2 separate regions of the Homo sapiens genome follow, and region 1 is linked to region 2. The links come from fine-mapping of genetic effects on gene expression. Tissue or cell type: whole blood. Region 2 holds a variant in brackets; the other region holds the start of a gene. All regions are shown on one strand. Distances are between the middles of the regions.

Region 1 (5,148 bases), 28 kb before region 2:
AAACAACTCTGGAGACCAGTACAGCATTCCCATTTTAGAGATGGGGAAACTGAGGCACAGAGCTGGGAAGTCCTAGATCTGTCTGACTCCCAATGCCAGCTCATCTCCACACAGCACATGCTGCCTTACTCAAGATCTGCTGTCCACACTCCACCCACTCTGGAAATGCCCTCAGAACAAAGTGGGCCTGGAATTCTCTTTCTGGGAGTCAGACTTCCATGACTGGTACTTGGGCACATGTGTGTCCACATATGGCCTCGCAAACCCACCCAGGCTTCAAGGCTACACTCAGCCTCCAGCTCCCAGTCATCTCAACTTATCAGACCCCAGCGCCAAACCCACATCTCCCCTGCACCTGCCTTCTCTGGGGACAGGCCACAGCCATCCAGTGCAAGGCTTCTGGCCCCATCGCCAACCGGCTTACTCCTTTCCATCTACTTCTTCCTCTCATCCCCATGGCAACCGCCCACTTCATCCCCCGTCACCTTTCTCCTTAAACTCTGCCCAGCCTCCTCTGTGATCTCCCTTGCCTCGAAGATCCCCCCTTCATCCTTGTTCCCCAGAGCAGCCAGAGTGATTCCCAGATTATATCATTCGCAGCTCACACCCTTTCTCTAGACAGGGCCCTTAGAAATCTGACCTCAAAGTCATGAGTCCCTCCCACTCCCCAGTGTGATCCAACAGTGCCCATTACTCCCATTACTCACTGTCCCTGAGAGAACCCTGAAGCTTCCCCCTCCACACCTCTGCACGAGCTGTGCCCTCAGCCAGGAACACCCTCCCATTCACCCTTTCCACCCCCTGCACCTGTCAAAATTATCATCTTCGAAAGCCCTGGCCAGATTACCTCTTAGGTGCCACCTTCCCTGATCTGCACTTTGGCTTGCATGGTGCCCCTCCTCGGGTACCTAGTAGGGCACCGTGAGACCACAGCCACACCCCAGAGGAGAGGCCGCTGTGTCTCTCTCGTTCCTCCGACCCGACACTATAATTTCCTCCTGCCACGGATGGGACCAGCGCATCTGAGACCCCACTTCCCTGTAAGAGGTGCCCCATCCCTGCCACTGAGAGTTCTGGAGCGGGCTGGGGGGCCAGCAGGGCAAGGAAGCTGGGGCTGTGCGTCCTTTGTTCCGGCTCAGGCAGGAGCAGAGAAGGTAGTGGAGTACAGGGGCTCAGGCTGACAGCCCTGCTTAGTATCTTTCTCCTCCCTCTTGCTAACAGACACATTCACTTCCATATTTTCTTTCCCCTTCCTCTGAGCCAAAGAGCGGAAATTCTCATTTTCACTGTGGTAGACGAAGTGAAACCAGAGAAAGAGACCCTGGTGAGTGTGTCTGGGTGTGAGCGTATGTGTGTGTGTGCCGTCCTGTCTGAGTATGTCTGGCTGGGCCACGTGGGGCCTGCCATGTGTCTGTAGGAGTTTGGGTGTGTGTGCATGTGTCCGCCTGTGTCTTGTGGTGGTGTATGTTTCATTAGAGGAGGGTGTCCGCATGAATCTAATGAATGTTTGGGTCGGTGTGTGACTGTGCATGGCTCTCAGAAGGGTGCAAGGCTGTGTGTGGCTGGGTGAGCATGTCTGTGGTTTCTCCTCATTATCATCTAGGGTCATTGTGTGTCCAAGGGTTTGTAGGTGTTCACCAGTCCACTGGGAAGCCAGTGACAGCACCTGTGCCCTGATGGAGACCACCAACCATGGTGTCTCTCCAGAGATCACCAACTCCTGCCCTGCGGCCCCCTCTGCTTGGGGCAGTAAGGATCAGTCGATCTTAGCTCAGTCCCCAGAGAGGAACCCCAGGCTGCCTGACCCTCCAGCCATCCAGCTCCACGGCCCCCAGATTTTTCAAATGCCCAGTACAGCTGCTGGGAGGCTGTCCTTGCCAAGGGGACTCTGCTAAGAGGAGTGGATGAGCCCCTGCTGCCAGCCTGAGCAAGAGGTACTGATAGCAGACAGGAGGGATGATTTCTGGTTGCTCCGGCACCCCTAAGGAGGTCAGCCGCACGTCTGTGTCAGGAACCCAGCATGGTCTCACACAGGCACACACACGTGCGTGCACACATACAACCAGCAAAGTTTTCCCCGTGGCAATAGCGTTCCTGGGCCCTCTGGCTGAATAGCATTTCTCTACCTGGAGGATTTCCGGGGCTAGGGTGGCTCCAGACCCAGGGCAGAGACACTGGGAGGTTGTTCTGGGGCCCTGGGACCCCAGTCCCTCTTGGCCAGGCAGCGGCCCCTCACCCCCTGCAAGTCTCAGTCTGGAGCTGGGGGGATGCTGAGCCCCTGACAGGAACATTCCTGGGAACTTGTCTTCAGTTTGGGGCGAGGGGACTGACAGGGCACCTAGAATAGGAGGAACCTGGGGGCTAAGGCAGAAAAACCTTATAACTGGAAGGTCTCCAGCAAATCAGCAATGGCAGAGAGATGGGGGCAGGAGTGAGAGCGGGGGGATGCTAAGGCCCCTCACTCCCTCCTCTCTCCTCCACTACCCTGTGAAGGCGGCTTTTTTATCCCCACTTTACAGGTGGGACGGGAGATCGGGAGGTGGTGACGCGCCCAGAGCCACATCGTCGGGGGTTGCACCCGGCACTGTCTTATGCTGGAGCCCTCGCTTCTGGGAGAGGAAGGGAGGAGGGGGCTTTACTGGGATCCTGCCGGGGAGGGAACGGGGCACAGGGAACGGGATGGGCTCCCCCATTCTAAGGCGACCCCCTGGCCCGAGTCCCCCACCGCGTCCCCACCCCGGAGTCCGAGGCGCCGGCCCTGCTATCCCGCATGGTGTTGGGGGAAGCCCAGCCCAGGTCTTGCCCTCGGAGCCCCCCAGCCCGAGCCCCGGTGCCCGCCTCCTGGCCTTTACCTGCGGGCGCGGCCGCCGGGCGCCGCTCCCGGCCCTCGAGGGCGGCCCGGGCGGCGAGGGCTCCGGGCAGGGGCGTCCGCGGCTGGGCGGGCGGCGTTGGGGTCCGGGGTCCGCGCCGGCGGGGTTCCGCGTCGCTCTGCCGGCCGCCCCTCGCGGCTGCCGGAGTGGGCGGGCGGCAGGAGGGGCGCGTCGGGGCGGGGCCTCCGCCCTCCTCTTTCCACAGCCACGGCCAAGGCCCGCGCCCCGCCCGGCCCAGCGCGCCCAGCGCGGACTCGGACGGCTGCCTCCCTCCCCGACACCCACGCCGAGCCCCCTCCACACACGCGCTCCCGGGCGGCCCGCCCCCATCCCTCCCCGTCCACCTGACCCGCGGCTCGGCCGCCGGGGAGTCCGCGCAGCCCCTGCCCTCGAGGGGCCACCTGCCTGTGGGGACGGACGCGGCTGCTGAGAAGGACGGCCAGGCGTGGTCCTGCAGGGAAGGGGCAGCTCGGGCTGGTGGCCCCCAGTGAGGAGTCCCCAGAAGGCTGCCTGCAGACGTGACCTCGGTAGGCTGAGCCCGGAGGACTCACAGGGGCCAGTCGTGACCCGCACATTCAGGCTTTAGGGCATTGAGCCGGGGTCACAGAGGCAGGCGGGAGCAGGCCAGACCTCGTCCCTCGGAAATGGGGAGTCACGGAAGGCTCTGGAGCAGGGCAGTCACGTGGTCAGATGTGTGCTTTGGAAAGAGCCTCCCGAAGCTGTGTGGAGGAAGATAGAGGCAGGCCACCGAGGAGGCTGCGGGAATACCCTGGCATGGTCCCATGAGGTGCACAGTGAGGGGGAAGGAAAGGGAGGGCCCAGTGTGAGGGGAGTGAGGAGGCGAACTAGGCAGAGTTTGGGCGAGGGGCCTAGGAAGAAGCAGTGTCAAGGACAGTGCGCAGGCTTTGGGCTAGGCCTGGGGGCGGCAGGGTCTAGGAGAAGAAGGAGGACGGATGTAATGAATTGGATGAGCCTGTGGGACTTCCATGGATCCGGAAGGGAGGTGAGAGTTCTGGGATAGCGAGGAGGAATCCACGGTTTGCAGATGGCGACTGATGCCATAGAATAAGGAGCGGGCCCAGGGAGGCGGGCAGGGCGCGGGCAGGACACTCATCAGCATTCACGGGGCTGCCCAGGGAGAGGGGTCGGCAAAGGAGACTGAGAAGATGGCAGGGACCGGGAGAGCAGTGTCCCAGAAGGCAAAGGCAGAGTGCTTCTAGAAGGCCAGGGAGGCCCACGGGATGGGCTGTCACAGAAGGACATTCTTAGGGACAGCAATTAAGGGTTGGAGGTTGGGGTGGGGGTAGGGGCAGTAGCCAGGCAGCAGGGGAGAAAGGAGGAGGCAGCAAGTGCAGAGGGAAGGGGAGATGAGGTCAGGAAAGGATTTTGGGGTGTGTGTGTGTGTGTGTCTGTGTGCGTGTGTGCATGTAGGTGAGTGTGGGTGTCTGTGTGTGCATGTAGGTGGGTGTGGGCGTGTGTGTGCGTGCATGTGTGTGTGCGCGTGCCTGTGTGTGTACGTGTAGGTGGGTGTGTGTGTGTGTGTGTGCATGTGTGTGTGTGTGCGTGCCTGGGTGTGTGTGTGCATGCGTGTAGGTGGGTGTGGGCATATGTGGAGGTATGTGTGCTTGGGTGTGCAAGTGTGTGTGTGCGCGCATGGGTGGGGGGTCAGCATGTGTGTAGGTGTGTGGAGGGGTGGGGGTGTGTATTTGTGTGCGTGTGGGGAGGTATGTGCGTGGGGGGGTGTGGGGGGTGTGGCTGCATTTGGGTGTGTGGATGTGGCTATGTGGCTTTGTGTGGGTGTGTGTGGCTGTGTGGGTGTATTGTAGCTTTGTGTGTGTGGCTGTGTGGGGGGGTGTGAGTGGGAGTGTGTGTGGGGGGCTGTGTTTGGGGGTATGGGTGTCTGTGTGTGTGGGTGTGTGGGTGCCGCTGTGTGTTTGTGGGTATGGGTGTGTGTGTGGCTGTGTGTGGGGATGGGAGTGTGTGTGTGGCTCTGTGTTTGTGGGTGTGGGTGTGTGTGGCTGTGTGAGTGTGGGTGGGAGTGTGTGTGTGTGTTTGTGTGTCTGTGGGGGGGTGTGGGTGGCTGTGTGTGGGGGTGAGTGTGGCTGTGTGTGTGTGTATTTTCAGTGGGAAAGAGCAGAGCCCTCACCAGGTCCAGGAAAGGAGCAGGGAGGGCCCCAGGCTGTCTCGGGTCAGGGCCCACCCCCCTCAACCTTCCCCCTTCTGCTGCCTGCCCTCTGAGGGCCTCCCACTTTTCTGTCCCCCTGCCAAGGTACACACC
Region 2 (5,309 bases):
TGTGGCCTCGTGATGGAATATCCAGTCTTTTAGGTAAAGTTCAAGTCACTTTCTCCCCCTCCCTCCCCCTAGAACAGCTACACTGCCTGGTTCCCAGAAAACAAAGATCACTAACTGTCGTGGCCGTCAGTTCTGAGTTCTAATCCCAGCTTTGCCATTTTAGGCAAGTTGCTAAATCTCTCTCAGTTGTTGTAAAGACTGGTGAGCCACGCATGCCCAGCACTTGGGCGCATAAAAGGCATAAAAGAAACGTGTATTCCCTTCCAGCCACCCTCCAAAAACAAGCCAACAAACAGGCACCAGAAACACGAAGGGAATGTGCTGGCTGAACTCTCACCCATCACCAAGGGGAAGTCTATAGTCCCTGACCACAGCTCTTTGGTTTCAGCTCCCGCGGTCTCTCAGCTGGTCAACTCTGAGGAAGCTGGGCTGGGGGGTCCCTGAGCACTCTCTGTTCACTTAGGCCTGGTAGCCTGACTGTAGCAGCTGCATTCTGGCCCCTAGCCCTCACCATGACAACCAGCCTGTCCAGACACGAGCCAGCCAGGCTAGGGAGGGCTGGGGGGCCGCTGAGGCTGCAAGCTGGTGCCCAGGGTTCCCCCAGTCCCTCCCTCAGGGTGCAGGACCAATCATTATTATACCCTTTTCCCCAGACATTCTGTTTCCTCCCTAGAGGCAGTGACCCCTCACTCTCCATCCTGTGTAATGCCACAGGGGAGGGAGCCAAGGGCCGAGGGCTCTGGGAAGGAACTTGAGGGTTGGTTGGGGTTGGGGGAGGAAAGCAGGAGTCAACTAGCCCCCAAGGGCCAGCTCAGCTAGACAAGAGCCCTCTGCATTCCCAGGACAGAGGACAGCTGAGGTGAAAGCTGCAGTTGGCCAGCCGGTCTGTCGGTCTGGGCTCCTCCCTGCCGGCTGCCCTTGGCTGCCCACAGAAACCTGAGTCACACTCACAGCCAGCCACCCAACCCCACCCTGCCTGCTGTCAAGCAGGGCGGTTCTAGAGAGAGTGGAGGTGGAGCCTTTCCCTGCCTGTCCAACAGCCTCCGAGATTTTGCCTCTCTCTGCCTGGGATTCCTCCTCTTGGCGTCTCTTTCTCTTTGGGACTTGCAGTGTCATTAGTCCTGAATGAACAGTGGGGGTGGGGGCCATCTCAGGTTGATCTATATGATCCCCTCCTCACTCAGATAGGTTCTTAAAGGCTTCTTAGGCCGAGCACAGTGGCTCATGCCAGTAACCCCAGCACATTGGGAGGCAAAGGCAGGAGGAACACTTTAGCCCAGGAGTTTGAGACCAGCCTGGGCAACATAGTGAGACCCCCATCTCCATAAAAAATAATTTTTAAAAAGGCTGTTCTGTTATGAAATAGCCACTCTTTTGTTTATTTACTTTTTTAACAAAAATAAATAAAAATTAAAAAAAACAACAACCAGCTGAGCATTGTGGTGTGCACCTCTGGCCCCCAGCTACTAGGAAGGTTAAGGTGGGAAGATTGCTTGAGCCCAGGAGGTGGAGGGTGCAGTGAGCCATGTTTGCACTACTGCACTCCAGCCTGGGTGACAGAACTGAAACCTTGTCTCAAAACAACAACAACAACAACAAAACTCCTTAGACAGCTGTTCCAAGGATTCTCAGTATGGTTTCCATCATTCCCAAATCCCAACCCTCCTTACCACTTCTAGGTGCCAGGACATTTAGGAACACCAGATGTCCCCTCACCACCCTCTTCTCCTTCTCCCTAGAAAACAACACAAGGGATAGCTTTCTGTTCCTATCAGGGGCTCTAGACAAAGACTCTCTCCTGGGAACCCAAAGGGTTGAATCTATTTAGTCCTGTATCTGAGTTCCCCGCCTCCCCAAGAGCTGGACAGGGAGGGGCAGCTGGCATCACCAGCCACAGGGAGTGGGCCCTGGGAGCTGAGGCCCCCCAGGAAGGCCGGTGCTGGTTAGAGACCCCGTGTTGCTGCAGTCCCTTGAGGCTGGGGCAGTGCCTTGAGGCTGGGGTGGGAGTGAGAATGGGTGCCTATTCTCTCCTCTGCCCCCACTGTGAGGCCCCTCCCACTTCCTGCAGTAATTTGTGGGTGTGGGAGCAGCATCCAAGGCCTCAGTTCTGAGAGATTTGTTAATTTTCTTAACTCTCCCAGTGATTTCCTTCATCTCTCCATCAGGTTCATCCTGGATCCTGCCCCACCAAACTAGGAGGCTGAAAATATCCTTGCCTTTCTTCCCCTCGGGGAAACAGGATGGAAACATATTTCTTTTTCTTTTTTTTTTTTTTTTGTCCTCCTTTTTTTTTGAGAGAGTCTTGCTCCGTCGCCCAGGCTGGAGTGCAGTGGTGTGATCTTGGCTCACTGCAACCTCCGCCTCCCAGGTTCAAGTGATTCTCCTGCCTCAGCCTCCTGAGTAGCTGGGACTACAGGCATGTGCCACCATGCCTGGCTAATGTTTTTGTATTTTTAGTAGAGACTGGGTTTCGACATGTTGGCCAGGTTGGTCGTGAACT[C/G]CTGACCTCAGGTCATCTGCCCACCTCGGCCTCCCAGAGTGCTGGGATTACAGGTGTGAGCCACCCCCGCCTGGCCAAAAATTTCTTTAGTATACTCTTTTTTTAAAGATTTTTTTTACTATCTTTTCTCTCTTTTTTTAGACAGGGTCTCTGTCGTCCAGGCTGGAGTGCAGTGGCACAAACATGGCTCACTGCAGCCTTGACCTTCCGGGCTCAAGTGATCCTCCCACCTCAGCCTCCTGAGTAGTTCAGACTACAGGCACGCACCACGATGCCTGGCTAATTTTTTGTATTTTTGGTGGAGACAGGGTTTCGCCATGTTGCCCAGGCTGGTCTCGAACTCCTGAGCTCAAGTGATCTACCTGCACTGGCCTCCCAAAGTGCTGGGATTAGGCGTGAGCCACTGTGCCTGGCCAGGATAGGAACATATTTCTGATCCCCATTCTGTGGGCTTCCCCCAGCCCCAGCCCAACCTTGCGGTGAAAGGAACAGCTCACTCATGCCTGTTTCCGTGCAGAAGGAGGAGACTGCCCTGGGCCACGATCTCCTACTGCCCTGGTCCAGAGGTCCCTGTCGCTCGCCAAAGACTGCAGGGAATGCTGTTGGGACTTCAGCCTCTTATGTTAGGGTTTCAGCAAGTACCCTACTTGCTCCTTCTCTGGGATGTCTATTTGTGGTGCCCCATGCAGCGTTACCTAGCCCCAAACTCAGAGAGAGACACTCTTAACCCTCTTGGTTGCTGGGGCCTGGAATCTGCCAGGGATCCTGGCCAGTGAGGAGGAGAATGGAGAGGAGTCCACTTCCTCTGTCCACCAACTGCCTCAATCACGGAACACGGGTGCTCTCCAGGCCCCTCCTCAGCCATCCTCCGCACACTCCCTGTGGACTCATCAGCAGCACAGGAAACCTTCAGGTCTGGCCAGGAGAACTGTCGTTTAAGCTGCCTAACTCCCAGATGCTCTGCTGGTCTCCAGCACCAACATCTTGTGAGTGCCTCACCCTCAAGCTAGGGAAGGGTTCCTCAACCTTAGCACTACTGACATTTTGCACCTGAGAATTCCTTATTGTGAGGATGGTCCTACGCAATGTAGGATGGTAAACAGCATCCCTGGCTTCTACGCGGTAGCTGCCATGTTTAGAGACACACCCCCCGCCCACCGCCGTATGTCTCTAAACATGGCTAAATGTCTCCTGGGGGGCAAAATTGCCCTTGGTTGAGAACCCCCTGATGTAGGCTAATACCAGGGGCTCTTTTTAGTGAGCTCCCCACAGTCAATCCCAAAGACAATAGATTTCCAGTTCTAAAGTCTGCTCACCCTTCCTCTACTGAAAAACCCCATAATCTTCAACAGCTCCCCATGCTTGTTTCCAAGCATTTGGCATTCAAGTCCTCCTACGTGGGCTGTCCCTGGCCTATCTGTTCATTTTTAGCTGCCATTTCCACCTCCACTATTCCTTTTGTTTGTTTGGCTGTTTGTTTGTTTTGTTGTGGCAGGGTCTCATTCTGTTGCTCAGGCTGAAGTGCAGTGGCATGATCTTGGCTCACTGCAACCTCCGCCTCTGGGGTTCAAACGATTCTCCTGCCTCAGCCTCTGGAGTAGCTGGGATTACAGGCACCCACCACCACACCTGGCTAACTTTTGTATTTTTGGCAGAGACAGGGTTTCACCATGTTGGCCAGGCTGATCTCGAACTCCTGACTTCAAGGATCCTCCCACCTTGGCCTCCCAAATTGCTGGGATTACAGTGTGAGCCACCACAGCCAGCCACTAGTCTTGAGCCGTAGCCAATGTGGGTATCTCGCGACTCCCATCCATCCATCCATCCATCTCCATCCCTGCAGTAATCTCAAGACAAGGGGTGGGAGGTGGGAGAAGAACCATTCCAGAGGGCTCTCTCCCCATACGTGTTCCTGAATTCTCCTGAGTCTGGTCACTGCCTGAGTCAGGTCTGGCCTGTCCAGCTCTGGAAGAGGCAGGCTGTGAGGCCCCTGACCTCACAAAGGACTGTCATGAACTCCGTCATCCCCGCAGTCCCCCCACCCTGCAGATAAGATGACTGACACAAAGATGGGGGATCTGCTCCTCGTCCTTCCACTTTTACTCATCAATGCCTTCATCACCATTATACTTGTTTACTGAGCACTTCCTAGATGCCAGGTTCTGTGCTCAGCACTTCATTTCCATTGCCTTATTTAATCTTTACAAAGACCCCAAGATACCTCATGGCACTACTATTTTTCTGATTTTGTAGGAGAGCAAATTAGATTTTAGAAAAGTTAAGTCACTAGCTCAAGGTTACTGGCTCCAGTTGCCGCCCTTCTATCATCATCCTTTTCTAATGTTTTTGGGCCAGAGGGGACACTATTCCCTTCCCAGGCCTTCCCAAGAGTGTCCAAGCCCCCAGATACGCACACATCCCAGGACAGGCTGCTCCCAGGTTGCCTGAGCCCCTGACCCTTTTGTTTCCCACTCTATCCCTCCAAATGGCCGCTTTCTGGAGCTGCTTAAAGGAAGGAGAAACTGGAGGGAAGGGGGGCAAGGGGGACAGTATCTCACTGGGCCTAATCTCTGGACAATGAAGAACTAGAGAACTGACCTTCTAGAAGTCAGGACAAAGGGCAGGGCCAGGGTGGGCAGGGCACAGCTGCCCCTCCTCCTCCCCCGCAACCCAAGTCCCTGCAGCAGCACCACCATCATCCATCCACCTTCCCAGCAAGCTCCCCACTCTGCCCCGGGCTGGGCCTGGCTTGGCTTGAAGCCCTCACCTCAGCTGGCACCAACAAGGGGGCTGGGAGTCCATTCTGGAG

The links. PIP is the estimated chance that this variant, and not a neighbour inherited with it, causes the effect.
Region 1: it holds the start of COL8A2, and the variant in region 2 is fine-mapped to the expression of COL8A2 in whole blood (TOPMed, PIP above 0.99).

The regions. Positions count from the first base shown.
Region 1 is chr1:36,122,205-36,127,352 of GRCh38, forward strand. It overlaps COL8A2 (collagen type VIII alpha 2 chain), which reads right to left and starts at 3,018. Exons shown (of 4, transcript NM_005202.4): 1 at 2,853-3,018. RefSeq lists a silencer at 330-530.
Region 2 is chr1:36,150,035-36,155,343 of GRCh38, forward strand. It overlaps a transcript of TRAPPC3 not described here. Among named protein-coding and RNA genes, the nearest start is that of TRAPPC3, 3.2 kb to the left of the region's middle. RefSeq lists an enhancer at 1-5. The variant C/G (reference allele first, on the strand shown) is at 2,501.